Homo sapiens: one gene and its partners. The protein of the gene in region 1 purifies or fractionates together with the protein of each later gene. This does not show direct contact. Each region holds a gene or a part of one and is shown in the gene's direction. Other genes may lie near its edges.

The links.
Region 2: the proteins of ACSM5 (region 1) and CRAT purify together in Homo sapiens (affinity purification with mass spectrometry; one large-scale study listed by BioGRID and IntAct). This does not show direct contact.
Region 3: the proteins of ACSM5 (region 1) and GLS purify together in Homo sapiens (affinity purification with mass spectrometry; one large-scale study listed by BioGRID and IntAct). This does not show direct contact.
Region 4: the proteins of ACSM5 (region 1) and COQ8B purify together in Homo sapiens (affinity purification with mass spectrometry; one large-scale study listed by BioGRID and IntAct). This does not show direct contact.
Region 5: the proteins of ACSM5 (region 1) and TMLHE purify together in Homo sapiens (affinity purification with mass spectrometry; one large-scale study listed by BioGRID and IntAct). This does not show direct contact.
Region 6: the proteins of ACSM5 (region 1) and LARS2 purify together in Homo sapiens (affinity purification with mass spectrometry; 2 studies listed by BioGRID and IntAct, with this or other methods). This does not show direct contact.
Region 7: the proteins of ACSM5 (region 1) and TARS2 purify together in Homo sapiens (affinity purification with mass spectrometry; one large-scale study listed by BioGRID and IntAct). This does not show direct contact.

What each region holds. Positions count from the first base shown.
Region 1 is NC_000016.10:20,430,034-20,433,533, forward strand, and holds part of ACSM5 (acyl-coenzyme A synthetase ACSM5, mitochondrial), read left to right. Parts: intron 1-959; coding exon 960-1,040; intron 1,041-1,186; coding exon 1,187-1,288; intron 1,289-3,500. UniProt on the Homo sapiens protein: Catalyzes the activation of fatty acids by CoA to produce an acyl-CoA, the first step in fatty acid metabolism.
Region 2 is NC_000009.12:129,100,794-129,104,293, reverse strand, and holds part of CRAT (carnitine O-acetyltransferase), read left to right. Parts: coding exon 1-106; intron 107-1,227; coding exon 1,228-1,281; intron 1,282-1,728; coding exon 1,729-1,894; intron 1,895-2,236; coding exon 2,237-2,411; intron 2,412-3,500. UniProt on the Homo sapiens protein: Catalyzes the reversible transfer of acyl groups from carnitine to coenzyme A (CoA) and regulates the acyl-CoA/CoA ratio. Also plays a crucial role in the transport of fatty acids for beta-oxidation.
Region 3 is NC_000002.12:190,960,821-190,963,436, forward strand, and holds part of GLS (glutaminase kidney isoform, mitochondrial isoform 1 precursor), read left to right. Parts: intron 1-2,009; coding exon 2,010-2,166; coding exon of another isoform or gene 2,167-2,206; 3' UTR 2,207-2,616. UniProt on the Homo sapiens protein: Catalyzes the first reaction in the primary pathway for the renal catabolism of glutamine. Plays a role in maintaining acid-base homeostasis. Regulates the levels of the neurotransmitter glutamate, the main excitatory neurotransmitter in the brain.
Region 4 is NC_000019.10:40,710,387-40,713,886, reverse strand, and holds part of COQ8B (atypical kinase COQ8B, mitochondrial), read left to right. Parts: intron 1-3,500.
Region 5 is NC_000023.11:155,515,453-155,518,952, reverse strand, and holds part of TMLHE (trimethyllysine dioxygenase, mitochondrial isoform 1 precursor), read left to right. Parts: intron 1-3,500. UniProt on the Homo sapiens protein: Converts trimethyllysine (TML) into hydroxytrimethyllysine (HTML).
Region 6 is NC_000003.12:45,521,076-45,524,575, forward strand, and holds part of LARS2 (leucine--tRNA ligase, mitochondrial), read left to right. Parts: intron 1-2,921; coding exon 2,922-3,033; intron 3,034-3,500.
Region 7 is NC_000001.11:150,497,419-150,500,918, forward strand, and holds part of TARS2 (threonine--tRNA ligase, mitochondrial), read left to right. Parts: intron 1-111; coding exon 112-329; intron 330-1,083; coding exon 1,084-1,246; intron 1,247-1,478; coding exon 1,479-1,616; intron 1,617-1,797; coding exon 1,798-1,875; intron 1,876-3,500. UniProt on the Homo sapiens protein: Catalyzes the attachment of threonine to tRNA(Thr) in a two-step reaction: threonine is first activated by ATP to form Thr-AMP and then transferred to the acceptor end of tRNA(Thr). Also edits incorrectly charged tRNA(Thr) via its editing domain.

The sequences.
Region 1 (3,500 bases):
AGACTCAGAAGGAAGAAGGTGAGAGGAGGGGCGTGAAGGTAAAAAAACTACGTATTGGGTATAATGTACACTACTCAGCTTACAGATGCACTAAAATCTCAGGATTCACCACTATAGAATTCATCCATGTTACAAAAAAACGCTCGAACCCAAAAAGCTATTGAAATACACACACACACACACACACACACACACACACACACTACTTATAAATTAAAAAAAGGTAATTTAAAGTACTTTTACAATTATACCATGACCAGCAAACCAGCCCTCACTGCTGAAGGCATTGTTTGTCTCCACCAAGACAGTCTACATCTGCCACTGTTCAGAGTCCAAGATTCTAAGCAGCGTCCTCTATAGTCATCTAGGAAGAGATCTGGGGATCAACTGAGTCTTTTGGCTTAGAGATGGGTTAAGTTCTTTATGTTTGAGTGCCCACTGGAGTGCCCCATAATTGTTTGTTAACTATGGAAAGAAAAGAAGAAAGACAGGCAAGAAAGAGGGAAGAAAATAGGAAGAAAATGAAGAAGGAAGGGAGGGAGGAAATAAAGGAAAGAGAAAGGAAAAGAAGGAGGAAAGGAAGGGAAAAAGATGAATGGAAGGAAGGAAATAGGGAACAAAGAAGAAGGGAGGAGAGAGGAAAATGGAGAATGAAATAACGGGGAAAAGAATGAAAAAAAGGAGGAAAGAAAATGAAGGAGGGAAGGAAGAAAACAGGAAAGGGGAAAGAAAGGAAAGAAAGAGGAAAGGAAGGAGTGAGCAAGGAAGAAAAAAGAAAAGAAAGAAGGGAGGAAGAATGGAGAGAAATGGAGAGAGGAGAAGGGAAAGAAAGAAGAAAGTGAGGGAGGAGAAAAAAGAGGATGAGAGAAAGAGTTATCAGGCAGGGTGAGAGAAAGGCATGGCCCAGGAAAGAAGCTAAGTGGAAAGGCTCTTCTTTATCTGTACTGCGTTCTCCCCAGGTTGTCATCTGTGCCAATCCAAAAGGCATGAAAATCAAGTCTGGATCCATGGGGAAGGCGTCCCCACCCTACGATGTGCAGGTAGCAGCCTCCCCCAACTTCTGGCAAGGCCTGGCATGGAGAGGAGAAAGACACACAGGCCTGGTTGGCACGGGCTGCTGGGCTGCTGGGAGAGGCCCAGGGTGTAGACACTCACGTATGCACCTCTGTGATGATTTCCTTACCAGATTGTGGATGATGAGGGCAACGTCCTGCCTCCTGGAGAAGAGGGGAATGTTGCCGTCCGTATCAGACCCACTCGGCCCTTCTGTTTCTTCAATTGCTATTTGGTAAGAGACGGGGAACAGCCGTTCTCATGACAGTGACTGTGTGCTAAGCATTGTGCACCACACTTTGTAAATATCTATTTGTTTAATCCTTACAATGACTGCATGAGGTAGGTTGCTACTATTATTAATAAAGTTCTGTTATTGATAAGGAAGACTATTATTGATAAGGAAGCTACTACAAAGGGGAAGTGACTTATCCAGCATCATGCAAATAGTACAGGCAGGACATGGGATTTAAATGTGGGTGTGTCTGAAAGCGTAAACATGACATGAGGGCAGCACTGTTGTTTTAATGAGGTGAAAATCGAGGTACAGTAAAGGAAAGGAGCTTCTGAAGGTCAAACTGCAGCCGGGTGCAGTGGCTCACATCTGTAATCTCAGCACTTTCAGAGGCCGAGGCAGGTGGATCACCTGAGGTCAGGAGTTCAACACCAGCCTGGTCAGCATAGTGAAACCCCGTTTCTACCAAAAATACAAAAATCAGCCAGGCATGGTGGCGCACGCCTCTATTCCCAGCTACTTGGGAGGCTGAGACAGGAGAATTGCTTGAACCAGGGAGGTTGCCGTGAGCCAGGATCATTCCACTGCCCTCCAGCCTGGGTGAGGGAACGAGACTCCGTATCAAAAAAAAAAAATAATAATAATAATAAAATAAATAAATACATAAAGGTCAAACTGCACTATTGTGTCAGAGCTGTCTTCAGGATTCTCTTTGTGGTTTGCTAGCAGGGCACAAACCTGGGATTTCAGTCCAAGTTTCTGGGATAATTCAGTAACTGCTTCTCTTTTGTATTCATCTTGGGTGGTGTTTATGTCGGGCTTTCTTTTCTTCACAGCTTTCTCTATAAAACTCTCAGACCTGGCTGTGCATTAGAAACACCTGGCAAGCCTCAGTTATTGCTGATGCTTGAGCCCCACCTCAGCTTAATTAAAATCAACATTTCTGTTGGTGTGGATCAGTTTCCCAGGCGATTCGAATGTCAAGCCTGAGAGCCACTGCTTAATAGAAATGCCATCTCATGTGTCTACTAAGCTGTCAATCAGCTACAGAATTAGAAGGAGCAGAAATAAATCAGTCCATTTCTTTTCAAAATGTTGCATTTTAGTGGTTTTTCTGTCACTACAAGAGAAATAATCTTCTACTTTATTTTGTTTAAAATCACAGAAACTTACAAAATCCCACAACATAGTAATCATGCCAAGCTGAGATCATGTTAACATTTAATGTATTTTCTGCTAATCAGTCTTGGAAGCAATAGTAAATCTTTGACCCCACTGAAAAAATGCATTCATTCATTATTTATTGTCGACTTCGTGCCGCTCGGTGTGGAGCAGGACTCTGGTACTTAGTGTGGAGCAGGACTCTGGTACTTACTGCACTTGTACACTTTCTTTCTGGTTGTGAGATTGTTCCACTGAGTGTACTAAAGTAATTTGAAAAGTTATTTGCTAGACAACAATCTAGTTTTTTTGACTGTTTCTTTCCGTCACCTGTACCAACAGTTAGTTTTCTTTCCAGATCATTCTTTTTTTTTTTTTTTTTTTTTTTTTTGTGACAGTGTCTTCTCACTCTGTTGCCCAGGCTGGAGTACAGTGGTGCGATCTTGGCTCACTGCACTTCCACCTCCTGGGCTCAAGCAACTCTCGCGCTCCAGTCTCCCAAGTAACTGGGACTACAGGCGCACACCACTTCACCGGGGTAATTTTGGTATTTTTAGTAGAGACAGGGTTTTGCCACCTTGGCCAGACTGGTCTGGAATTTCTGGCCTCAAGTGATCTGCCCGCCTCGGGCAACTCCCAAAGTGCTGGGATTACAGGCATCAGCCACAGTGCCCGGCCCAGCTCATTCTTAATTAAGAGAAAAATATTAAATGTCTTCGTGAGAATCAGGAAACATGTGAAAATTATTATAGAGGATCTCAGACCAAAATTGTTCTGTGAGTTTTGATAAGCTAAGCTCATTCTCCCCCTACAATAAACATAAACATTTCAAATTCACGTTGGTCATTCCCATTTAGCTGAAATTGCACATGTCAGTTAAATGAATATGCCCGTGTCAACTGTATATCCCATATAAGGAATGTGCTTATTTTCCTAGGGAAACAAATTATCAAATGCACAAATATTTGTTATAGTGCTGGCTGTTTATAACAGATAAAAAAGGTGGAGGGACTATCTAAATTTCTAATATCAGAAATTAGTTATGTAAAGG
Region 2 (3,500 bases), on another chromosome or scaffold:
GGCTCAAGACCGCCTACCTCCAGTACCGCCAGCCTGTGGTCATCTACTCGAGCCCAGGCGTGATGCTACCCAAGCAGGACTTCGTGGACCTGCAGGGTCAGCTCCGGTGAGTGGCTGGGGTTTGGGGGCCAGGAGGCAGCCGGGCCCCTCGAGTTCACTTCGCCCAGCCGCTTGGAGGGGCCCCGACCCTGTTTATCTTTCTGCCCCACAAGCAGCCTTATGAAGTAGGGAGCATCCTCCCTATTTTACAAATGGGGAAATTGAGGCTCGGAGCAGGGAAGGGAGCTGCCCAAGACCCCATTCAGGAAGCAGGGTCTCTCCAGCTCTAAAGCCTCATGGCTGTTAACCACCACATCTTCGCAGAGGCCCCATCCTCCTCCATACCTGAGGCTTCTCCCCGACCCCAGTTTTAGCACTTCACCTCTCCTTTCCACTCTTCTCAGCTAGCCACAGGGGTGACCTCTGTACACAGTCCTCTTTTCCACATTCAGCCAGGTCACCTGCCCCAGCCCCTATTCCAGTCCTACCAGAGATAAAAATACCAGTGACAAGGATCTCCTGCCCAAGGACCAGCCACTGGCTGCCACCACCTGCTTCTCTTAAAGGGACCAGGGTACCCTGGGAAGGGCCGGGGTTCAGGCCCAGGAACTCCAGCCACTGGTCCCCATGGTGGGATCCAGGGGCGGCCCCAAGCATTGAGGGTGGTTGCCATGGGCCAGACAGCCCTGGGAGGAAGGCGGCCTGGGGGACACAGAGGCCCAGAGTGGGGAAGGGACCTAGTGGAGGGAACACCGGAGCCACTGCTCTCCCATCACACCACCCCAGGGGCCCGGGGCCTCCAGAACCGATGCTTCAGAGCAGATGACACCCCCTCCAGATTCTAGGCTGAGGTTCAGGAGCTCAGGCCCTTTGTGGGTAGACCCAGCCCACTGACCCCTAACCAAGCCACACTCCAGCTGCAGGGGGCCAGCACCCAAGTCCTACTAGGCCCTTGGCCACCAGCACTTCCCCGAGCCCTCCCGACCATGCTCCCTCTAGAGGTTATGAAGAAGCACACACAGGCTGGCAAGCTGGGACTCGCAGGCCCCTCCCTTGCGCTCCCAGGCTTTCTGGAAGCGGTGAGAGAGGCTGGAAGACTAGACCTCCCGCTCCCCAAGCAGGTGTCCCTAGCCCGGGGCCTCCCTCAGGGTGTCCACGCAGCTTCTAATCTCTAATCAATCTTTCCAGATTTGCTGCCAAACTCATTGAGGGTGTGTTGGATTTCAAGGTCATGATTGACAAGTGAGCATCCCCACCCCTGCCCAGCCCCACACCTGCCCAGGCCTGCTTAATTACCACAGCCACCTCTGACCCCAGCCCTGGCCCGGCATGCCAGCTTGGGCCCTGGGCCCTGCTCCAGCTGCTGGAATCTCCTCTTGGTGGGTGACCCTGTCCCATCCCAACTAAAGAGGACCCCAGAGTTTTATTCGCTGCTTCATCTCCCCTGTGACAAACTGAAGCCCAGAGAGGGGAAAGGAGGGAGTTTCTAGATGACTTCTGAACAGGGCCCATCTGGGGCAGAAAGCGAGCCCCCTGCCCACAGCACAGCCCTGAGGTGTCCTGCTCATCTGGGAGTGGGAGCAGGGACACTGTGTGAGCCCCCAGCAGTACCTAGCAGGTCCCTGTCTACCCTGCCCTCCTCCCCATTCACTTGCCCAGTGGTGGCCTCACTGCCCCTCTACCCCATAGCGAGACCCTGCCCGTGGAGTACCTGGGGGGGAAGCCACTGTGCATGAACCAGTACTATCAGATCTTGTCCTCCTGCCGAGTGCCGGGCCCCAAGCAGGACACAGTCAGCAACTTCAGCAAGACCAAGAAGCCTCCCACGCACATCACCGTGGTACACAACTACCAGGTGGGTGGCCCCCACCCACACCTACAAGCCCCGGCCCTGCTGCAGGAGTACAGCCGGACGGCCGCAGTCGGCTTCCCCACTGGGGTTCCCCAGCACACGTGCCCACGTGCCCCAGGAATGGGCGCCCCTGGCTTCTCCATTGGGGGCCCAGGGAGGCCAGGAGGGGCCGTGGGCCTGCCCAGCCCAGAAGGGTGATCCAAGGACCTCCTCCCCCTCTCACCCTTGGCCTGACTCCATCCCCTCCAAGGCCAAGGCCAGGAGGAGGCAGGTGTGGGGAGGTGGCTGCTCTCAGCCTGAGGTCCCCACTCAGCTCCCTCCTCTTACCTGCCTGTGCCCCAACAGTTTTTTGAGCTGGATGTGTACCACAGTGACGGGACACCCCTCACTGCGGATCAGATCTTTGTGCAGCTGGAGAAGATCTGGAACTCATCCCTACAGACCAACAAGGAGCCTGTGGGCATCCTCACCTCCAACCACCGCAACTCCTGGGCCAAGGCATACAACACCCTCATCAAAGGTGCCTCTTGGGGGCCGTGCTGGGGCTGCACACCCAGGCCTCTTCCCCTGTTGGGGACCAGCCTCAACTCCACCTGTAGGGTACCCGAAGTCTGCTGGCAACAAAGGAATGAGAAGAGACAGGTTAAGAGTTCATGAAGGTGGGAGCCAGGGGCCAGTTGCAAAATGGAGGCTGCAAAAGGCGCAGAGTTCTGGTCTCCACACTATTGAGTGCAGTCACTTAGCTCTAAGAAGCACATGTTCAGGGCGAAACAGTGAAAGGGAGGCAGTGCCTCATAGGAGGCATAATCTATAGCAATAGCAGTTTAAATGAATCTCCTTTGTGCTCAAACAGCGTGTCTTTAACTTATCGGAGAGTAGCTGGTGGGAGCGGGCTTAACTAGGAGCCTGCACATCTGTCCACTTCCCAGTGTTTCAAAGGAGTGTCTTTCTCCTTGAACACAGTGTTTACAGATAGGAGAGCGGGTCTCGCTCTGAGCATGGGAACATGATGGCAATTAGTAGGCTTTCCTCCTCCGTGGCCTCTTCTGGCTTTCCACAACTTATTGTCCCCTATTTTTATGGCCAGTTTATACAGGCACCCCACAAGTCCTTTTCCCAACATTCCCCCGGCATGCTGGGCCCCGCACAGCCATGGGCAGACATGTTTCCCGCTGCATCCTCTCAACGTGGAGCAGGCAATGTGGGCCCCATGTCCTAGTTGAGGACACCTCATGGTTAGGGTAGTTTCTCTCAGCTAAATAGCAAGTTAGGATTAGAGTCCAAGTCCTCTGGCTGAGAAGCCCACCCGCCTCCACACCCCCTGTGCCCCCAAGTACCAGCAGTCCTCCAAAGCATGTCTTGCTCAGGGGCATTGACCCCAAAGTCAGACCACCTGTGTGGGTTCCCCGGCTGCCACACCAGCTCCCATGTGACCCCTGGGCTTCGGTTTCCTGTGTCTAAAGTGGGCCAGGTGTTGGGCCCTGCCTCGAGGAGTGCTGTGGGCCTGCAGGGTCCTGTTGAGTTCGAAGCTCTGAACCCACACCCTGCACTTGGTGAATGCCCTGGAGGGCCGGCGAGGTGGGGGGTCTCCTCATCCCAGAGAGGTACA
Region 3 (2,616 bases), on another chromosome or scaffold:
AGTTGTAAAAAAGCACTATGATTAAAAACTCCTTTATTGGCAGTATTCTAAAACCTCATGTTAGGTTGACAGTCTTCTTCCCTTTCCCCAAATTTTAATACCCACCCCAGGTTTCTAAAGCAAAAAATTGAAGAGCATTTTCCTCCTGTGTTTATAATCCCAACTAAAACACTATGTAATACATGTTGGAAATATTACTGTGCTTTGTATATGTATTAATTTTTTTTGCCCTAAATTGGCCTCTAGGAATGTGAAAGTAGATGTACCCACCTGATAAGAAAAAGTGAGCTAAGTAACTAACTTGATAACTAGGCATTCAACAAGTCTTTTTCTCTATTTCATAGAATCAGTGTCACCTTAAATTATAATAGGTTTGCACAGAATTCGTGAATTCTTGAGATAGAGTCTTGCTCTGTTGCCCAGGCTGGAGTGCAGTGGCGTGATCTCGTTCACTGCAACCTCTGCCTCCCAGGTTCAGGCAATTCTCCTGCCTCAGCCACCTGAGTAGCTGGGATTACAGGTGTGTTCCACCACGCCCAGCTAATTTTTGTATTTTTAGTAGAGAGGGGTTTCGCCATGTTGGTCATTCTGGTCTTGAACTCCTGGCCTCAAGTGGTGCACCCACCTTGGCCTCCCAAAGTGATAGGATTACAGGCATCACTGTATCTGGCTGAAATTAGTGTATTCTTTAAAGTTCATATTTTTCATTAATTCACAGAAGAATTGTAAAAAAGGTAACACGCAGTTGACATTCCATTTTTCCAGAAAGACAGATAATTACATACTGTAGAGGATGACTCAAAAGTCTGTTTCAAGCCACTGACTTCCTAAACTAATGAAGGCCTATTCAAAGTCACTTAATTCAGCTGTTTTTTTTTTTTTTTTGATAAATACAAAGATACATGTAAAGTTTTACTTACCTGATTTTAAAAACAGGCTACCAAAATTTATCCAAATATATTAAAAAATGAGACTGTTTTAAAAACCTTTCGTTTCCATATTGTGACTCCACTAAGCGGGTAAAAAGTTCAGGACAGAGATGGAAAGGAAAGAAGGAAACAGGAAGAAGTGAAACTAGGAAGGTGGTGCCAGTGGCACATGGATGAAGAAAGAGAGATCATCAGCCATGGAGAATTTTGTAATGTAAGTAGAGAGAGAGATTGGGTAGGAAGACAGGCTTCACAGTTTGTAAAGTGTAAGGGAACTACCCATCGTACCCTGTCATTGACTAGGGCTGTGAGTTATGTAGTTCTGTCTCCTCTTGCAAAAGACTTACCACTTCTGGCAAGTGATTAACCACTTCTGGCAACTCTTCATTTCTTCTTATCCTTGAATATTCATCTACATCACTCTAAACAGCACAGCCCCAGAAGCATGGAAAGGGGAGTTATTAGTATGGAAAGGGGAGTTACTCTTCTGGTGTAGTGGTCCGATTGAGTCCATGGCTTCCCAGCCTTACCAGAGGTGATAAAAATGTCAATTCCTTTGGGGCCAATCTTGCTCCTCCAGTGTGTTTTAGCCCTAATGAGGTCATGGTTATTTCTAGACTTCTGAGACTTACTGTGGCTTTGAATTGACACAAACACTAATTTTCTGTCAAAGGCTAGAGTGATGGATGTTATATGCCTGAATTTTCTTTGAACATTTTATTTTAAAAGAGATACTTTGGGCTTTTCATGAAACTAAAATTCTGGAACCCTAGAGCAGTCTATTATATCTGTCACCACAAGGACTTTCCTTAAAAAGCTCCCTCCATAAGCACTTGGATGTGTAAACAAGATCCTTTCACAGATCTTTTTCTCTTCCTCTCCATATCCCAACTTGTCTTGGAGACTACTTTTTGAATTATAAATCCCTTTCTGCATTTCTATTATTAATTTTTATTTGTAAAATTGCTAAAATAGCTAAATTTGGCCATTTAACCTGCATTTAAAATCTAGGAATGTGGGGTGATCATCTTTGTACATAAATTACCTAATGACCCTGTCCATGCTGTGCTACGTGTTTAGGTGGAATAACACTCCCATGGATGAAGCACTGCACTTTGGACACCATGATGTATTTAAAATTCTCCAAGAATACCAAGTCCAGTACACACCTCAAGGAGATTCTGACAACGGGAAGGAAAATCAAACCGTCCATAAGAATCTTGATGGATTGTTGTAATGGTCTCAAATCCCAAGATTTAAATCACTTACCTATTTAATTGTGGAAAATGATTATGAAGAACATGTGTATTTCTATCTGGTAGTGATGTATATTTTACATTTGTCATTTCAGTGTTACTGGAGTTTTCTTCATTGTGCACACAGGACAAATCTGATCTCTTTGGGAAAAAATAGAAATAAAACAATCTCCCTCCATAATGTGAGCAATATTACCTCGTGCATTGTATAATTTGATGTAAAAGAAATAGTTACCAATGCTAGCTTGTGTGGTCTTCCATGATTTATTTGTGTTTTGTGAATTTTCAATTTATGGTGATGATCTGCTGATATGCATTTATAAAGTAAGCTCTGTTGTACAGTCTGTCCAAATGGGTCAAGGTTGCCTTTAGAAGCAAATAGTGTGATTTTCAAGACTTCAAATACAAATTTAGTTTAAGTGTTTGAACAA
Region 4 (3,500 bases), on another chromosome or scaffold:
TTTTTTTTTTGAGACAGAGTCTCACTTTGTCACCCAGGCTGGAGTGCAGTGGCGCGATCACTGCAGCCTCAAACTTCTGGGCTCAAGCAATTCTCTCGCCTCAGCCTCCTGAGTAGCTGGGACCACAGTTGTGCACCATCCGCCCGGGTAATTTTTTTTTTTTTTTCCTTTGAGACAGAGTCTCGCTCTGTTGCCCAGGCTGGAGTGCAGTGGCACCGTCTTGGCTCATTGCAACCTCTGCCTCCTACATTCAAGCAATTCTCCTGCCACAGCCTCCTGAGTAGCTGGGATTACAGGTGCCTGCCACTATGCCTGGCTATTTTTTTTTTTTTTTTTTTGAGACGGAGTATCCCTCTGTCACCCAGGCTGGAGTGCAGTGGCGCCATCTTGGCTCACTGCAACCTCCACCTCCCGGGTTCAAGCCGATTCTCCTGCCTCACACTCCCAAGTAGCTGGGATTACAGGCATGCATCCACCACACCCGGCTAATTTTTGTATTTTTAGTAGAGACGGGGTTTCACCATGTTTGTCAGGCAGTGGTAGAGCTTTGGCACCAGGCTGCCCAGGGTTCAAGGGATGACTCTGCTATGTCCTCGCTTTGTGATCCGCCTGCCTCAGCCTTCCCAAGTGCTGGGATTACAGGCGTGAGCCACCACACCTGGCCGCCTGGCTAATTTTTGTACTTTTAGTAGAGACAGAATTTCACCATGTTGGCCAGGCTGGTCTTGAACTCCTGACCTCAAGTGATCCACCCACTTCGGCCTCCCAAAGTGTTGGGATTTACAGATGTGAGCCACGGTGCCCGGGAAGCCACTGTGCCTGGCCTGGGTAATTTAAAAAATATTTTTTTGTAGAGATAGGGTCTCCCTATGTTGCTCAAGTTGGTCTCAAGCGATCCTCCTGCCTCGGCCTCCCGAAGTGCTGGGGTTCTAGGCATGAGCCACTGCTCCTGGCCATAATAACATTTACTGAGAACCTGTAATGTGCAGTGTCCCATATACACACATGCTGCACTGAATCAATGAGTGTTCTATTCCGTACATGAGGACATTGAGGCTAACAAAGGGGAGGTCACTTGACTTTGGGTTACACAGCCGGATGTCGTGCAAGTCACATGAAATAATTTAGTGGGTTGCAACCAGCATTTAAAAAGAAGAATAGGACAGAAAATATGCATGCACCTGTAGAGCAAGGGAAAGTCTTGTTTCGTGAAACATATACCTTGGTCTGCACTGGTTATAACGTAAATGTCTTCTTATTGCTGATCATGGTTCAAGTTTTGTTTTTGTTTTTGTTTTTGAGATGGAGTCTTGCTCTGTCACCCAGACTGGAGTGCAGTGGCATGATCTCAGCTCACTGCAACCTCCACCTCCCAGGTTCAAGCAATTCTCCTGCCTCAGCCTCCTGAGTAGCGGGGGTTACAGATGCACGCCACCACGTCCAACTATTTTTTGTTGTTTTTTTTTTTTTTTTTCTTAGGGAGACAGGGTTTCACCATGTTGGCCAGGATGGTCTCGATCTCCTGACCTCATGATCCGCCTGCCTTGGCCTCCTAAAGTGCCAGGATTACAGACGTGAGCCACTGTGCCTGACCGCTAATTTCTGTATTTTTAGTAGAGATGGGGTTTCACCATGTTGGTCAAGCTGATCTCGAACTCCTCACCTCGTGATCCACCTGCCTCAGCCTCCCAAAGTGCTGGGATTATAGGCGTGAGCTACCATGCCCCGCCTGGTTCAAGTTTTAAAAATATAGATTCACTTGCTTGTACCCAGGAGGTAGAGATTGCAGTGAACCAAGATCGCACCATTGCACTCCAGCCTGGGCAGCAAGAGTGAAACTCTGTCTCAAAAAAAAAAAATCTATATATATATACATAGATAGATTCACAGTCTGCAGAGGCAGTCAAAGGCACTGGTTAGAGCTTTGGCACCAGGCTGCCCAGGGATTAAGGGATGACTCTGCTGTGTCCTCGCTTTGTGACGTGACTCTGGGCAAATTACTTCACTTCTCTGAACCTCAATTTCCTTTTCTGTAAAATGGAAGTTTTCTGTAAAATACATTTTATGAAGGTGGAGACCTCATGTAAGGACAAAAATTAGTAAGTGCACAGAAGGCACTGGGAACAGCCCCTGACATGTAGAAAGGACACAGAAAATGCCAGATATGGTAATTGACAGAGATGGTGACAACAAAAGAAGGAGAGAGACCCGAGACGTCTTTAGGGACAAGAGGAGAGGTAGCAGAGGAAATCAGAGATGGAGAGATAACATCAAAGGGAGGAAAAGAGAGAAAGAGATCTAGATAGATAGGACAAATGGGGAGAAGGCAAGAGATGCAGAAATAACTGGCTTAGAAAGGGAGAGGTCAAGCCTGGTAGCCCACACCTGTAATCCCAGCACTTTGGGAGGCCGAGGCAGGAGGATCACGTGAGTTCTGGAGTTCCAGACCAGCCTGGGCAACATAGTGAGACCCTGTCTCAATAAAAAATTAGGTGAGCGTGGTGGTATGCACGTGTGGTCTCAGCTACTCAGGAGGCTGAGGGAAGAGGATCACTTGAGCTCAGGAATTTGAGGCTGCAGTGAGTTATGATGGTGCCATTGCACTCCAGCCTGGGCGACAGAGTGAGACCCTGTCTCTAAAAAGAAAAAGAGATAAGCATAAAGAAGAGGAGGTGTGGACAGAGAAAGAAGAGTCACCAGAAGACAGAGGGACCTAGGACAATTGTTTCGGGGCCTTCTTTTTTTTTTTTTTTTTGAGACGGAGTTTCTCTCTTGTTTCCCAGGCTGGAGTGCAATGGTGTGATCTCGGCTCACCGCAACCTCTGTCTCCCAGGTTCAAGCGATTCTCCTGCCTCAGCCTCTTGAGTAGCTGGGATTACAGGCATGCACCACCACGCCCGGCTGATTTTGTATTTTTAGTAGAGACAGGGTTTCTCCACGTTGGCCAGGCTGGTCTCGACCTCCTGACTTCAGATGATCTGCCCACCTCGGCCTCCCAAAGTGCTGGGATCATAGGCATGAGCCACTGTGCCCGGCCGAGGGGCCTTCTTAACCTTGATCGCACATTAGAATTATCTGAGGTGCTTTTTAACAAAACACAAATTCCCATGTCTCAGGCCAATTTAATCAGAATTTGGGGAGTGGAGTCTGGGCATTATATTTACCGGAGCTCCTCTGGTAACTGGAATGTGCAGCCAGGGCTGAGAACTGCTGGGAGGGAGACAGAGACATGGAGAAAGGGTTAAAGAAAGAGGAAGCTGCACCTTAAAGGGAGCCCCATGCAGGAACAGAGTCAGAGACTGATTTGGAAACAGAGATACAAAGAATTGGGAGACAAGACTGAGTGCGGTGTCTCATGCCTATAATCCCAGCACTTTGGGAGGCCGAGGCGGGAGGATCACCTGAGGTCAGGAGTTCGAGACCAGCCTGGCCAACACGGTGAAACCCCGTCTCTACTAAAAATACAAAAAAAATTTAGCCAGGCGTGGTGGGCGCGTGCC
Region 5 (3,500 bases), on another chromosome or scaffold:
AACAAAATTGATAGACCGCTAGCAAGACTAATAAAGAAAAAAAGAGAGAAGAATCAAATAGACACAATAAAAAATGATAAAGGGGATATCACCACCAATCCCACAGAAATACAAACTACCATCAGAGAATACTACAAACACCTCTACGCAAATAAACTAGAAAATCTAGAAGAAATGGATACATTCCTCGACACATACACTCTCCCAAGACTAAACCAGGAAGAAGTTGAATCTCTGAATAGACCAATAACAGGCTCTGAAATTGTGGCAATAATCAATAGCTTACCAACCGAAAAGAGTCCAGGACCAGATGGATTCACAGCAGAATTCTACCAGAGGTACAAGGAGGAACTGGTACCATTCCTTCTGAAACTATTCCAATCAATAGAAAAAGAGGGAGTCCTCCCTAACTCATTTTATGAAGCCAGCATCATCCTGATACCAAAGCCGGGCAGAGACACAACCAAAAAAGAGAATTTTAGACCAATATCCTTGATGAACATTGATGCAAAAATCCTCAATAAAATACTGGCAAACCGAATCCAGCAGCACATCAAAAAGCTTTTCCACCATGAGCAAGTGGGCTTCATCCCTGGGATGCAAGGCTGGTTCAATATACACAAATCAATAAATGTAATCCAGCATATAAACAGAGCCAAAGACAAAAACCACATGATTATCTCAATAGATGCAGAAAAAGCCTTTGACAAAATTCAACAACCCTTCATGCTAAAAACTCTCAATAAATTAGGTATTGATGGGACGTATTTCAAAATAATAAGAGCTATCTATGACAAACCCACAGCCAATATCATACTGAATGGGCAAAAACTGGAAGCATTCCCTTTGAAAACTGGCACAAGACAGGGATGCCCTCTCTCACCGCTCCTATTCAACATAGTGTTGGAAGTTCTGGCCAGGGCAATCAGGCAGGAGAAGGAAATAAAGGGTATTCAATTAGGAAAAGAGGAAGTCAAATTGTCCCTGTTTGCAGACGACATGATTGTTTATCTAGAAAACCCCATCGTCTCAGCCCAAAATCTCCTTAAGCTGATAAGCAACTTCAGCAAAGTCTCAGGATACAAAATCAATGTACAAAAATCACAAGCATTCTTATACACCAACAACAGACAAACAGAGAGCCAAATCATGGGTGAACTCCCATTCACAATTGCTTCAAAGAGAATAAAATACCTAGGAATCCAACTTACAAGGGATGTGAAGGACCTCTTCAAGGAGAACTACAAACCACCGCTCAAGGAAATAAAAGAGGACACAAACAAATGGAAGAACATTCCATGCTCATGGGTAGGAAGAATCAATATCGTGAAAATGGCCATACTGCCCAAGGTAATTTACAGATTCAATGCCATCCCCATCAAGCTACCAATGACTTTCTTCACAGAATTGGAAAAAACTACTTTAAAGTTCATATGGAACCAAAAAAGAGCCCGCATTGCCAAGTCAATCCTAAGCCAAAAGAACAAAGCTGGAGGCATCACACTACCTGACTTCAAACTATACTACAAGGCTACAGTAACCAAAACAGCATGGTACTGGTACCAAAACAGAGATATAGATCAATGGAACAGAACAGAGCCCTCAGAAATAATGCCGCATATCTACAACTATCTGATCTTTGACAAACCTGAGAAAAACAAGCAATGGGGAAAGGATTCCCTATTTAATAAATGGTGCTGGGAAAACTGGCTAGCCATATGTAGAAAGCTGAAACTGGATCCCTTCCTTACACCTTATACAAAAATCAATTCAAGATGGATTAAAGATTTAAATGTTAGACCTAAAACCATAAAAACCCTAGAAGAAAACCTAGGCATTACCATTCAGGACATAGGCATGGGCAAGGACTTCATGTCCAAAACACCAAAAGCAATGGCAACCAAAGCCAAAATTGACAAATGGGATCTAATTCAACTAAAGAGCTTCTGCACAGCAAAAGAAACTACCATCAGAGTGAACAGGCAACCTACAACATGGGAGAAAATTTTCGCAACCTACTCATCTGACAAAGGGCTAATATCCAGAATCTACAATGAACTCCAACAAATTTACAAGAAAAAAACAAACAACCCCATCAAAAAGTGGGCAAAGGACATGAACAGACACTTCTCAAAAGAAGACATTTATGCAGCCAAAAAACACATGAAGAAATGCTCATCATCACTGGCCATCAGAGAAATGCAAATCAAAACCACTATGAGATATCATCTCACACCAGTTAGAATGGCAATCATTAAAAAGTCAGGAAACAACAGGTGCTGGAGAGGATGTGGAGAAATAGGAACACTTTTACACTGTTGGTGGGACTGTAAACTAGTTCAACCATTGTGGAAGTCAGTGTGGCGATTCCTCAGGGATCTAGAACTAGAAATACCATTTGACCCAGCCATCCCATTACTGGGTATATACCCAAAGGGCTATAAATCATGCTGCTATAAAGACACATGCACACGTATGTTTATTGCGGCACTATTCACAATAGCAAAGACTTGGAACCAACCCAAATGTCCAACAATGATAGACTGGATTAAGAAAATGTGGCACATATACACCATGGAATACTATGCAGCCATAAAAAATGATGAGTTCATATCCTTTGTAGGGACATGGATGAAATTGGAAACCATCATTCTCAGTAAACTATCGCAAGAACAAAAAACCAAACACCGCATATTCTCACTCATAGGTGGGAATTGAACAATGAGATCACATGGACACAGGAAGGGGAATATCACACTCTGGGGACTGTGGTGGGGTCGGGGGAGGGGGGAGGGATAGCATTGGGAGATATACCTAATGCTAGATGACACATTAGTGGGTGCAGCGCACCAGCATGGCACATGTATACATAGGTAACTAACCTGCACAATGTGCACATGTACCCTAAAACTTAGAGTATAATAAAAAAAAAAAAAAAAGAAGAAAAGTACAATTGTTCCAATAGAAAAATGTGAGAAAGGACTGAACAGACAAATCATTAAAGCAGGAGTCAGCAAACATTTTCTATAAAGAGCCAGATGGTAAATATTTTCAAACTTTGTGGGCTATATGAGTGAATGGAGCTATAGACAATATGTAACAACATGGACAGCATGTGTTCTGAAACAGGCATTACAAAACCAAGCACCAGATTTGACTCATCAACCATAGTTTGGTAGTCCCTGCATTAAAGAAACATAGATGTCTAACAAATATAGAAAGTATTCTTATTAGCCTTAGTAAGCAAATAAGTTAAAATTATTACAAGATAGCAGTTCCACTTTAGTTACCAAATTAGAAAAAAATATATTTTAAAAATAAGAATACTCCATTTTGATGGACACATATGTACTGTTGGAGGGAATGAAGATAAGTAGACTTTCTAAAAAGTAATTTGATTATGTATATCAGAACTCTTAAAAGTTTATATCTTTGAAATTTCTAAATACAAAGATACGAACTTTTAAGAAATGTAATATACATTCTATTTCTAAATTATA
Region 6 (3,500 bases), on another chromosome or scaffold:
AGGCGGATCACGAGGTCAGGAGATCAAGACCATCCTGGCTAACACAGTGAAACCCCATCTCTACTAAAAAATACAAAAAATTAGCCAGGCGTGGTGGCAGGCACCAGTAGTCCCAGCTACTCAGGAGGCTGAGGCAGGAGAATGGTGTGAACCCAGGTGGCGGAGCATGCAGTGAGCCAAGATCACGCCACTGCACTTCAGCCTGGGCGACAAAGCAAGACTCCGCCTCAAAAACAAAGTAAAAAAATAAAATAATTAGCCTGGCATGGTGGCATACAGCTGTAGCTGTAGCTACTCGGGAAGCTGAGGCGAGAGGATCGCTTGAACCCATCCTGGGCAACAGAGCAGGAGACTCTGTCTCTAAAAATAAAATTAAAAGGGTAATTTTTAAAAAGTAAAATAAAGATAAAAAAGAACAATGGAAGAAATTTCAAATTTGACTACATAAAACTTGACATTTTCAGTATGTTAAAAAAATTTATAACATGTCAGACAGAAGGTTAATATCCTTGTAAAGCACTCTTACATATTAATATGAAAATACCTAACCAAAAATGGTCAAAGCATATGAAAAGATAATAACTCATAGAAAATGTTATAGAAATAGCCAATACATTTGTGGAGAAAAAAAAGTCTGCCTCTCTAATTATCATGAAAGGCAAATTTAAAACAAGATGCTTTTGTTTTTGTTTTTGTTTTTTTTTAAATACCTGTCAAATTTGCTGAGAATACTTTAACGTAACTATTCAGGGCCAGGCACAGTGGCTCATGCCTGTAATTCCAGCACTTTGGGAGGCCGAGGCAGCAGGATCGATTGAGCTCAGGAGTTTGAGACCAGCCTGGGCAACATAACAAGACTTCATCTGTAAAAAATTTAAAAATTAGCCAAGTGTGGTGGCATGCACCTGTAGTTCTAGCTACTCAGGAGGCTGAGGCGGGAGGATCCCTTGAGCCCAGGAATTTGAGGTTGCAGTGAGCTGTTTGGTGCCACTGTACTCTAGCCTGGGTGACAAAGCGAGACTCTCTCTCAAAAAAATAAAAATAAAGGCATAATTATTCCCCATGCTATTGCAAAGATGGCAGAATAGACTTTTACACGCCAGTGATAGGTGTGGTTGGTGTAACCTTGCCAGGAAGCACTTCGGCTATCAGGTTGATTGTGTTATATCCTCTGATCCAGGAGTGTTCACTGCAGATAATTTATAATCACAGAGACTCGGAACCCCAGTGTCCTCTGATGGGGGAATTGTGAAATGACTTATGTCATATCAATAAGAAAGGAATGTGCCACCACCATTAACCTCATGTCTTGAAGAATACTTAATATCAGAAACTGTTTATGATATAATGTTAAGTAAAAACACATGACACAAGGCCAGGCACAGTGGCTCACGCCTGTAATCCCAGCACTGCGGGAGGTCAAGGCAGATAGATCGCTTGAGGTCAGGAGTTCAACACCAACCTGCTCAACATGGTGAAACCCTGTCTCTACTAAAAATACAAAAAATCAGCCAGGGTGTGGTGGTGCACACCTGTGCACCTGTAGTCCCAGGCACTCAGGAGGCTGAGGCAGGAGGATTGCTTAAACCTGTAGGCAGAGGTTGCAGTGAGCTGAGATCACACCACTGCACTCCAGCCTGGGCAACAGAGAGAGACTCTGTCTCAAAAAAAAAAGATACAAAAGTGTTCATATGAGCTGGGTGCAGTGGTTCACACATGTAATCCTAGCATTTTGGGAGGCCAGGGCAGGCAGATGGCTTGAGCCCAGGATTTCGAGACCAGCCTGAGCAATATAGTGAGATACCCCATCTCTATTTAAAAAAAAAATTAATTTTTAAAATTAAAAAAAAGGAAGTGTTCATATGGCAAGAATACCAATCCTGAAAATGTTACATGTGTAATAAGCATTTATATACACATTTTTGCATTTTTGGAGACAAGGATAAAATATACCTTTTTTTCTAGGTTGTATAATTATGAGTAGTTTTTCATTTCCTGTATATTCTGTGCTGAGTGTGTGTTAGTTTTTTAATCAGAAAAAATAAAGCAAGACACTGAAATGAAACTGTAATGAATTTCTGTCTTTCCATTCCGGAATTTGGGAAGTCCTTAATAATAACACACAGAGCTAAACACAACTATGTTTGCCGGAATTGACCAAAGGTATTTCAGAGAATAGGGGTCCCTAAGTAGGGTATAGAGGCCCCCCTGCCCTAGGTGTTTCACAGTTTAACACCTTTGAGCAGGTCTCAGTGCATTTCTCTGTGGACCTGCAGCACAGAGGAAACCTAGCAGAGTGGGTAAGAGTTTGGCTACAGTGTGCCTGGGGGCAGATTGCCCTCCCTTGCTGATCCTTAGCTGCTTCATCTGTCCAATGGGGTAAGAATACCACCCTCAAAGAGTGGTGAGGACTAAATAAGTTAACATCATGTATTTGTTGTTGCTGCTGCTGGAGCTTTTTTTTTTTTTTAAAGATAGGGTCTCACTGTTGCCCAAGCTTCAGTGCAGTGGTGCAGTCATAGCTCACTGCAGCCTTGACCTCCTGGTCTTAAGTGATCCTCCCACTTCAGCCTCCTAAGTAACTGGGACTATAGGTGTGTGCAACTGTGCCTGGCTAATTTTTTTTTATTTTTTAATTTTTCATAGAGATGAGGTCTCACTATAGTGCCCAGGCTGGTCTCAAATTCTTGGCCTCCCAAAGTAGTGGGAGTATAAGTGTCAGCTACCACACCTGGCTTGCTGTAGTTTATCTCAGTGCTATCATTAAGTAGGGGAAGTTCATTGTCCCAAGCAGAAATGGATGGCAAAGGGGGTTTCTTCCTACCAGCTTGTGTCTCTGGACTTCAGATACATTAATGGTCTTTCTTACCCGTGCTTATTTTTACACCTCAGTCTTCTTACTTTTTTTTCCTCTTCCTTAGCAAGCCTCTCAGAGCGTCATTCTCCACAGCCCCGAGTTTGAGGATGCTTTGTGTGCCCTGATGGTAATGGCTGCTCCACTGGCCCCTCATGTAACCTCAGAGATCTGGGCAGGTACGTGGCAGAGTCCTTTTTTGACCAGTTACTACTAACTAGAATTTGTCGAAGCCTCTTTTTGAACATCATTCGGGACTCAGATGTCCTCAGATATAGGGTCCAACATTTGGCATCTATACTCAGCAACCTCTCTGTCCTGTACTCTGAATGGTAGTACTTCATCCACATGGTCACCCCTACCAAAAGGAAAGACACTTCCCTGCTTTGAATAATGTGCCCAGACTAATGTGGGTGTTGATGTTACCATCTTAATCCCTTCTCGTGACTCAGCCCCCCAGTATCCACATATTATGACCTGCGTGGTCTTTTTAAGATAAAAACTCATGTTTAATACCACTGTACAGGTGGAAATTAAGTTATAGGTCTAAACTTACACTGTAATTCAGCACTCTTCACCAATTATTCCTAATCTAGGCATCAAAGCAGGCCTGACTGCCTGCTTGAATTTCAGCCCCTAGAACCCT
Region 7 (3,500 bases), on another chromosome or scaffold:
TTGTGGTTGCAATCAGCATGGCCTGAGGGCCCAGGAAGATCACACAGCTGACACCCTACCTGCTTTCCTTCCAGTTACTCTGACCTTCCATGTCTGTACCCTCCTCTCCAGGCTGAGTATGCCCATCGTGGTTTCTCCGAGGTGAAAACTCCCACACTGTTTTCTACGAAGCTCTGGGAACAGTCAGGGCACTGGGAGCATTATCAGGAAGACATGTTTGCCGTGCAGCCCCCAGGCTCTGACAGGCCTCCCAGCTCCCAGAGTGACGATTCTACCAGGCATATCACAGATACACTCGCCCTCAAGCCTATGAACTGCCCTGCACACTGGTAAGCTGGGAGCTAGGGTTACAATCAGGTTGCTAAATATTAAATAATAGAAAGCACCTTGGGGCCGGGCACGGTGGCTCACGCCTGTAATCCCAACACTTTGGGAGGCCGAGGCGGGCGGATCACCTGAGGTCGGGAGTTTGAGACCAGCCTGACCAACATGGAGAAACCCTGTCTCTACTAAAAATACAAAAAATTAGCCGGGCACGGTGGCGGGCGCCTGTAGTCCCAGCTACTCAGGAGGCTGAGGCAGGCTAATGGCGTGAACCCAGGAGGTGGAGCTTGCAGTGAGCCGAGATCGCGCCACTGCACTCCAGCCTGGGTGACACAGCGAGACTCCATCTCAAAAAAAAAAAAAAAAAGAAAGCACCTTGGAAAGAGTATTGGGACACCGATTTGAGCCTACAGTCTTCCCCCTAGCTAACCATGTAAATTTGGGAAACTCATTTTACCTCTTTAGGTCTCAGTCTCCTTAAAGTTGCTATCTAAGGCTCCTCCTTCAGCTCAGTGACCATCACAGAACAGGGAAATGGTAAACGATGTCTGTTATTGTGTTACTGAGAAATCCACTTTTGAACCTCAGGGCTCAGACTGTGATGAGTGGGATTGACAGGACTCAGTGGGAGGATGTGCTGAGGCTGGAGAGGGTTATAGCAGATGGTGCAGAGAAAGTAGGCAAGCAGATTGGGTGGAGGAGCAGTCTTCGGGGGCTAGTCCTCCCTATGGCCCTGACCCCTCTGCACCCCAACCTCAGCCTGATGTTCGCCCACCGGCCCAGATCCTGGCGGGAACTGCCCCTGCGACTAGCTGACTTTGGGGCTCTACACCGGGCCGAAGCCTCTGGTGGTCTGGGGGGACTGACCCGACTGCGGTGCTTCCAGCAGGATGACGCTCACATCTTCTGTACAACAGATCAGGTGGCCTTTCCCTGGCTCCACCAAAGCTTTTCTAAACCACCTTTCTTTCTCCCTATGAACCTGCAAACCCCTGATCTTTATTTGCCCCCTGTATGTACTATAATTCAGCTACATTCTACCCCCAGCTTGCTTCCGCTTCCTCTCTGTTTTTGCCCTTTGTTTTCCTCAAACTGCCAGCATCCCTGATCTCTAGCGGGCTCACAGCTCACTGACCCTTATTTCCTGCCCCTAGCTGGAAGCAGAGATCCAAAGCTGTCTTGATTTCCTCCGTTCCGTCTATGCCGTTCTTGGCTTCTCCTTCCGCCTGGCACTGTCCACCCGGCCATCTGGCTTCCTGGGGGACCCTTGCCTTTGGGACCAGGCCGAACAGGTGAGTAGGAGGTAGAGAAATAGAGGCAGATAAACCACTCTCTGGTGGGAAGGAGTGGAGAATACAGTAATCAAGGTTCTCAGAGGCATCTGGTGAGTGGGTCATTTGTTGGGGACTGACCGGATGTGTTGCTTTTGAAGTCTAAGATGATGTATTCCACTCTTGTCTCATTCCTTCAAAGGTCCTTAAACAGGCCCTGAAGGAATTTGGAGAACCCTGGGACCTCAACTCTGGAGATGGTGCCTTCTATGGACCTAAGGTAAGCTTGGGACCCTGGTTAGTGTTGTATTTATTTATTTTTTGCTTTGTTTTAGTAAATATTTAATAGATACAAAGAATTTTTTTTTTTGAGACAGTCTCACTCTGTCACCCAGGCTAAAATGCAGTGGTGTGATCTCAGCTCACTGCAACCTCCAGCTCCCTGGTTCAAGCAATTCCCCTGCCTCAGCCTCCCGAGTAGCTGGGATTACAGGTGTACGCCACCACACCCGGCTAATTTTTTTGTATTTTTAATAGAGATGGGGTTTCGCCATGTTGGCCAGACTGGTCTCGAACTCCTGACCTCAGGCAATCCACCCCACTTGGCCTCCCAAAGTGCTGGGATTACAGGCGTGAGCCACCGCACCCGGCCACAAAGAAATATTTTTAAACTTACGTAGGATATAAAGAAAAACAATATACTTTCTGCCCTCTTGGCATCTGCAATCTAGTGAGGGCTGCTGAAGGTAAATAGGCCATATCAGTGCTGCGAGATCTGTGCTGTGTAGGTACCAAGAGAGCACGTTAGCTGGGGTTAGCATTACTCGGGGAGGTTACAAAAGGTGTCCTGCAGGAATCACTTTCCAATCTGAAAGGTGAGTGTTGGCCAAGTAAAGATGTGTTTCAGGAGGGAACAGTGTAGGCAGAGGCTGGGGATAAGGATGAAAACACATGGCAGACCAATCTGGGCAACACAGGGAGACCCTGTGTCTACCAAAAAAAAAAAAAAAAATTAGCCGGGTGCAGTAGCTTGTGCCTGTGGTCCCAGCTACCCAGCAGGCTGAGATGGGAGGATCACCTGGTCCCAGGAGGTAGAGGCTGCAGTGAGCCGAGATTGCGCCCCACTGCACTCCAGCCTGGGTGATAGAGTGAGACCCTGTCTCAAAAAAAAAGAAGCCAAGGGGAAAAAAGGACTGAAAAGTGTCCACTGGATTTAGTAAAAAGGCTGCTGGATTTCAAAGGACCATTTTCAGTAAAGTAGGGCCTGAGGGTGGAGTTAGAAGATGAATAAATGAGGCCTGTGTGGTGGCTCACGCCTGTAATCCCAGCACTTTGGGAGGCCGACGTGGGTGGATCACTTGAGGTCAGGAGTTCGAGACCAGCCTGGCCAACGTGGCGAAACCCCATCTCTACTAAAAATATAAAAATTGGCCGGGTGAGGTGTTAGGACACACCTGTAGTCCCAACTACTCAGTAGCCTGAGGCAGGAGAATCGCTGAACCTGGGAAGTTGCAGTGAGCCAAGATCACACCACTGCACCCTAGCCTGGGCAACAGAGCAAGACTCCGTCCCAAAAAGTAAAAATAAAACAGGCTGGGGGCGGTGGCTCACGCCTATAATCCCAGCACTTTGGGAGGCTGAGGCAGGTGGATCACCTGAGGTCAGGGGTTTGAGACCCTGTCTCTACTAAAAATACAAAAATTAGCCCAGCGTGGTGACAGGCACCTGTAAACCCAGGAGGCGGAGGTTGCAGTGAGCCGAGGTCGCACCACTGCACTCCAGCCTGGGCGACAGAGTGAGGCTCCATCTCAGAAAAATAATAATAAAATGAAAAATAAAATAAATGCTATGATGAGAGGAAGTCTATTTGGAGGGAGAAGTTGTTGTAAAGGGAAGTTCCTGGAG